Homo sapiens: one gene and its partner. The protein of the gene in region 2 purifies or fractionates together with the protein of the main gene of each other region. This does not show direct contact. Each region holds a gene or a part of one and is shown on either strand. Other genes may lie near its edges.

Evidence for each region. Proteins that work in one complex are often made in the same cells at the same time.
Region 1: the proteins of HMGN4 (region 2) and PAK1IP1 purify together in Homo sapiens (affinity purification with mass spectrometry; one large-scale study listed by BioGRID and IntAct). This does not show direct contact.

The regions. Positions count from the first base shown.
Region 1 is NC_000006.12:10,697,888-10,701,542, forward strand, and holds part of PAK1IP1 (p21-activated protein kinase-interacting protein 1), read left to right. Parts: intron 1-3,655. UniProt on the Homo sapiens protein: Negatively regulates the PAK1 kinase. PAK1 is a member of the PAK kinase family, which has been shown to play a positive role in the regulation of signaling pathways involving MAPK8 and RELA.
Region 2 is NC_000006.12:26,541,254-26,544,442, reverse strand, and holds part of HMGN4 (high mobility group nucleosome-binding domain-containing protein 4), read right to left. Parts: intron 1-3,189.

The sequences.
Region 1 (3,655 bases), about 16 Mb from region 2:
CTCAAAAAAAAAAAAAAAAGGTTTCTTGCTCTGGGTTGGCTTACGGTCTGTATTGGGAGACAGAAAGGAGGCATTTAACCCAGTCAGAGTGAGGTTTTCACTGAAACCTTCCTTAAAATGACATCTGAATTATCTTAAAAGAGAAATGTCAGTTATTGGGCAGGTAAAGTTTGCAAGGAGGGAGAAAGGACATTCCAGGCAGAGCCGGCAGTGTGAGGAGCACAAGTAGTAGCATCATAGCAATATCTGACTTTATTGAGGGCATATTATGTACCCCTCTGTGTGCCAAGAAAGTAGAAGAGAACACCTAGTTTCAAAGATGTAGCGTCACAGCAATATCTGACTTTATTGAGGGCATATTATGTACCCCTCTGTGTGCCAAGAAAGTAGAAGAGAACACCTAGTTTCAAAGATGTAGCGTCATAGCAATATCTGACTTTATTGAGGGCATATTATGTACCCCTCTGTGTGCCAAGAAAGTAGAAGAGAACACCTAGTTTCAAAGATGTTACTTGACTTGCCGAAGGTCTCAAACACTGGAACTAGAACTTGAACCTGGGCCTAGAGCCCATGCTTTTGACCACTGGTGTTCATAGGGAACCGTAAGCAGTTCCGGATTATGAGAAGGTTAAATTGGGAGTTTGAGGGGCTAGAGAAGTAGATGGGACCAGATCCTGGAGTCCTTGAGAGAGCCAGTTAGAGACTGAATTGGGAGGGAGGGAGGGAGCAAGCTAGCAAATGAATGATGTGGGCTTGAGGAAAGTACTGCCAGTTTGTATCGGAGGGGTGCTGACTGAGAACCCCAACAGAAGGACTGATGAAGGCCTGCCCCATTGGAATTGGCAGCTACGGATTGAGTAACATCAGTTTGCAAGATTTTCTGAGTTTATTCAGTAATAAGCCACAGACATTTCCCTAGAGAGAGGAAGGTTACTTGGTGTGTGCGGTAGAAGGATTGAGTTACAAGAGAATTAAGAATTTTGGTGAAGGAGTGGATTAGGTTGTCAACATAGAGAAAATGTGTTGTCAAAGGCCAGGCGCGGTGGCTCGCGCCTGTAATCCCAGCACTTTGGGAGGCCGAGGTGGGCCGAGCGTGAGGTCAGGAGATTGAGACCATCCTGGCTAACAAGGAGAAACCCCGTCTCTACGAAAAATACATAACCTTAGCTGGGCATGGTGGCACGTACCTGTAGTCCCAGCTACTTAGGAGGCTGAGGCAGGAGAATCGCTTGAACCTGGGGAGGCAGAGTGTGCAGTGAGCTGAGACTGTGCCACTGCACTCTAGCCTAGGCGACAGAGCGAGACTCTGTCTCAAAAAAAAAAAAAAAAAAAAAAGAGGAAAAGAAAAGAAAATGTGTTGTCAAGGGCCTGGAGATCTCTGAAATACAAAAGCAGGTGGAGTGTGAGTGCAGAGAGGCATGAAAGGGATGGGAAGATGTGAGCTTGTGGTCAGCAAATAGCTTCCTAGAGGTCAAGAGTTCTAACGTGGAACAGCTCTATGTGGTAACGATGCCCAGGCTGTGGGTGTAGGGGACTGAAATGCAGGGGAGGCAAAGGTCACTGGAGTTGAAGTCAAGAAGTAGTACTACAGTTCCCGGCTTGTGGTTTGGTTTTCCACACTGGTGGTCAAGGTACCCAGGATAGTGGCAGAATCAAGGGAGAGAAAGACTGAACAGGTAAATTTTTTTCTTCAGTACCAAACATTTTATGCTGTTTTTGTTGCATTTTCCCAGGGGACAGAGAATGAGGAGTAACTCAGCCAAGAAAGTTGGTTTTCTGCAAAGAAAGGCAGATAAAATGGTGCCCTTTTTCCTACCCAATCTTACATGTATTTCAGAGGATCCACACCAGGCATTGGTTTCCAGCAGTAAATTTGCAGCGATAAATGGCTTCCTTCTATTAGGTGTTCCCTTAGTTTATTCAGACTGCTATAACAAAATACCTTAGACTGAATAATTTATCAATAATAGAGATTTATTTCTCACAGTTGTAGAGGCTGGGAAGTCTAAGATTAAGGCACCAGCAGATTTTCTTGTCTCGTAAGGACTGGCTCTCTGTTGCTGTGTCCTCATGGTAGAAGGGCAAAGCAGATCCCTGCACAATTCTGTAAGGTCAAGCTTGAGAGTTGGAGCCAGTTTAAAAAAAGCAAACAAACAAACGAAAAAAACAACTTTTTTTTTGGCGGGGGCGGGGGGGCTTCTCGCTCTGTCACCCAGGCTGGAGTGCAGTGGCGCGATCTCGGCTCACTGCAGCTTCTGCCTCCTGGGTTTAAGCGATTCTCCTGCCTCAGCCTCCCAGGTAGCTTGGATTATAGGTGCCTGCCACCACGCCCAGCTAATTTTTGTATTTTTAGTAGAGACGGGTCTAACCATGTTGGCCAAGCTGGTCTTGAACTCTTGACCTCAAGTGATCCGCCCGCCTCAGCCTCCCAAAGTGCTGGGATTACAGGCGTGAGCCACCGCGCCCTGCCAAAAAAAACAACTTTTATAATGTCGCCAGTCCTCTAATCCCGTTCATGAGGGTTTGCCCTTATGACTTAGTCACCATCACCTCCTAAAGGTCTCACCTCTTAAACTATCACATTGGCAACTAAGTTTCAGCAAATGAATTTTGGGGGACACTTTCACACATGGCAGACTGTCCATTGCTGCTTTAACAGCTGTCTTGCTCTTCATCAGAAGCTGAGCTTTGAGTGATTCAAATATACATTCTTTTTTTCTCTATCTCCTAGTCCTAGTTTGTTACAAAGAAGGCTTCTCTCTCAGGTTTGGAAGAAATAAGTTAAATTTGATCTGCCCAAACCCATTAGTACAAGTGTTCAACAATAAGAAAAGGAATTACATAGAAGGAGTTTAGATTGGGGGGTGAATGAAGTAGGGCTCTTGGTTTCTTGGTTTCCTTTATTTCTTGTATAAATCCTTTTTTTCTTTTTTCTTTTTTTCCTTCAACTTTTAAGTTCAGGGGTACACATGCAGGATGTGCAGGTTTGTTACGTAGGTAAACGTCCCATGGTGGTTTGCTTTACAGATCATCCCATCACCTAGGTATTAAGCCCAGCATCCATTAGCTGTTCTTTCTAATGCTCTCCTTCCCGCAACCCTTCCCCTCCCACAGGCCCCAGTGTGTGTTGTTTTTCCCCTGTGTGAGAACATGTGGTGTTTGGTTTTCTTTTTCTTTTCTTTTCTATTTCTTTCTTTCCTTCTTTTTTGAGATGCAGTCTTTCTCTGTCACCCAGGCTGGAGTGCAGTGGCAGAGCTCGGCTCACTGCAACCTCCATCTCCCGGGTTCAAGCGATTCTTGTGCCTCAGCCTCCTGAGTAGCTGGGACTACAGGCACACACCACCACATCCAGCTAATTTTTGTATTTTCAGTAGAGACGGGGTTTCGCCATGTTGGCCAGGCTGGTATTGAACTCCTGACCTCAAGTGATCTGCCTGTCTCGGTCTCCCAAAGTGCTGGGATTACAGGCATGAGCCACCTCGCCTAGCCAGTGTTTAATTTTCTCTTCCTGCATTAGTTTGCTGGGGATAATGGCTTCCAACTCCATCCACATCCCTGCAAAGGACATGATCTCATTCCTTTTTATGGGTGCATAAATCCTATTTTTCTAAGAGTTGCTAATAGATAAGCTTTTTTCTAGGGAAGCAAATGTGGG
Region 2 (3,189 bases):
AAAGGGAATACCATTCAGCAGCAGAAACAAATAGATTACAGGTAGGTTCAAAAACGAGGATGAATCTCAAGAATATAATGCCGAAGAAAAATAGCAAGTTGCAGAAGAATATGTACACTATAGATCCATTTACACATGTAAAACTATGACATGTTGAGGCCACAAACATATAGTAAAACTTAAAAAAAAAGGGATAAATAAAAATTGGACAGTGGTCATCTCTTGGGAGTTGGGAAAGGGATGTAGTTGGAGAAGGCATGGAGGTTAGTCCAGAGATGGGGGAGGTTGCATTCTCTTCTTTAAACTGTAGGGGAAGCACATGGCTGGAGTATTACCTATGTCTTACACAGAAAAATTGTATGTGTCTGCTCAAGAATTAATAAAAGTACTAAAAAATGTGGGTAGCCCAGAGCACAGATTGAGAGCCACACAGGTAGGAAATGGAAAATAGTTTGAGTTTGAGTAATTAGGACTTAGGCCTAGGGCTGGCATTCATGGGCACTGTGTGACTTTTTTAAAGCTTTTGTCTATCATACCTTCTGCCCCACCCTTGAAAACATTTACTGGGAAATTCTGTAACCTTGTGAGTGGCCACCATTCTACAATGTTATTATTATTTTTTTAATCTTGTCTCCAAATTGCTCCAGTTTTTTTTTTTTTTTTTTTTTTTTTTTGAGATAGAGTCTCAGAGTCTCGTTCTGTCACCCAGGCTGGAGTGCAGTGGTGCGATCTCGGCTCACTGCAACCTCTGCCTCCCGGGTTCAAGCAATTCTCCTGCCTCAGCCTCCTGGGTAGCTGGGATTACAGGCGCACGCCACCATACCCAGCCAATTTTTGTATTTTTACTAGAGACAGGGTTTCACCGTGTTGGCCAGGCTAGTCTCGAACTCCTGACATCAGGTGATCCACCTGAGAATTGCTTGAACCTGGGAGGCGGAGGTTGCAGTGAGCCGAGATTGTGCCACTGCACTCCAGCCTGGGGGACAGAGTGAGACTCTGCTTCAAAAAAAAAAAAAAAAAAGGTAATGGTGCCACTGAGACATACAGTTCTACTGATCTAACTACACCTGACCTGCTCTCTTCTGAAGAAATCCTTGCCTAGACATTACATGAATTTATTGCTAATTTTTGTCTTTTTCCCTTTATTTCAAATGCAACATTAAGGAATCATTTTAACAATTTTTAGGAAACAAAAGGAGTTACTCTTACAATGAAGGAACCAGTGAAAATCACTTGGTCTAATGGTAGGGTGACTTGATTTATACCTGTTGCCCTAGTATAATTATTCATAATGTTCCCTTTTACTTTGAAAGGTGACCTAACTTGGGCAATGAATAATAAGGTTACCCCAAATATTCTGCATATATTTTTAGAGGCCTTTATGTTATCAGAGAATGAGAGTGTTTAACCAAAAAGTGAGATTTTGGCCTAGCACACATTTCCCTAAGAATAGATACTCCATACCATTCTCCTTCCATCTCACTCCAAAATTGTTTCTCAGCCCATTTCCTGGTGTGAGAATGCTCACACAGTCTCTTTTCCTGGGTTCAGTCTTCTTCGAGTTAGATCCATTGAAGTCCATCCGAAGTAGGGGGGCCATGATCTCCACATGTCAAAGGCCAAAATACAGCAGGTGACAAAATAAAATCAGGAAAAATAGGCCACTGCCTGGATGCTGTATCTGAGTATATAAATACGGATTTAATTCTTGAAACTCACCTTTAGGAAGCTGATTAGGAGACCAGGTCACTGACTCTCTAGAGACCTTACAAATGTGGGAGACAGATACACACATAATGAAAAGGGACCAGAGAGATGGGTAAAAGCTCTTACCATTTCCATAAAGGACAAGGAGGTTGGAAAAGGAAGGAGCTCTCACCACACAGTGGTTTTAACTCAGAAGAAATTATTTGAGGTGGCGCAGAAGAGATTTTTAGGTAAATGAAACTCTTTTGTATGCTACTGTAATGGCATATATTATAAAATGGTAGATGTTATGCACTTGACAAAACCCACAGAACTTCATACAGTGAGTGAACCCTGATGTAAACTATATATTTTAGTTAATAATAAGCTATCAATATTAGTTCATCATTTGTAACAAATGTACCACACCAGTGTAAGTTGTTAATAACTTAGGAGAAACTGAGGTGGGGGAAAGGAAGTATGTGGGAACTCTGTATCTTCTGCTCAATTTTCTGTAAACCAAAAATTGCTCTGAAAAAAGGAAGTCTATTAATGTAAAAAAAAAATACGCATTTTAAGAGTTCAAAAAAATAATGTTAATGATAAAATATAAAAGTCATTACAAATACTCCTTCATGCATGTGGAAGAAAAGAAAAATTATTAACTGGCAGATAAATCTTACTAGTAATTGTACAACTTTTGGAAACATAGAGAAATGACTTTCAATGGTATCATCAGGGCAAGAAATTATCAAGACAGATACTGAAGTTATTTTCCCAAGACATGGCAACAATTTTAAAAGTTTTAGAAATATAACAGTTCCCCTTTGTTAAAATAACTCTTCCAATAACATTATATTACAAACAACAGAGCAAGTTAGTGAAAGTTTTGAATCACTCGTCTTCATTGCACAGAACTGGACTGAAATTCTCATGAAAGCTCTCAATTTAACTCCTCATTTAACCAGATTGCTGTAGGGGAGAAGAAACATCTGCTTCATCCTTCTTCCAATCCTTTTGTTAGCATGAAGACTTGCATTTTTATCATTAGAAGAAGATCATGATGTTTAAATTAACTGGCAAAAATAGCTTTAAAAAAAAAACTAATAGTGAAATAAAAAGCAAAATAGGGTATTATGGGTGGGCCCTAATTCAATATTACTGGTGTACTTATAGGAAGAGGAGATTAGGATACAGACAACATAGAGGAACACATCTAAGGATGTAGTGGGAGGTGGCCATCTGCAAGCCAAGGAGAGGCCTCAGAAGAAACCAAACCTGCCGACATCTTGATCTTGGACTTCTATCCTCCAGAAGTCAAAGAAAATTAATTTTTGTTGTTTAAGTCACTCAGCCTGTGGTACCTTGTTTCGGCAGCCCTAGCGGACTAACATAGGAGGGAACAGTGTAAGAATTTAGTGACTCAGGCAGGGCGTGGTGGCTCACGCCTGTAATCCCAGAACTTTGGGAGGCCAAGGTGGTCAGAAGTTCGAGACCAGCCTG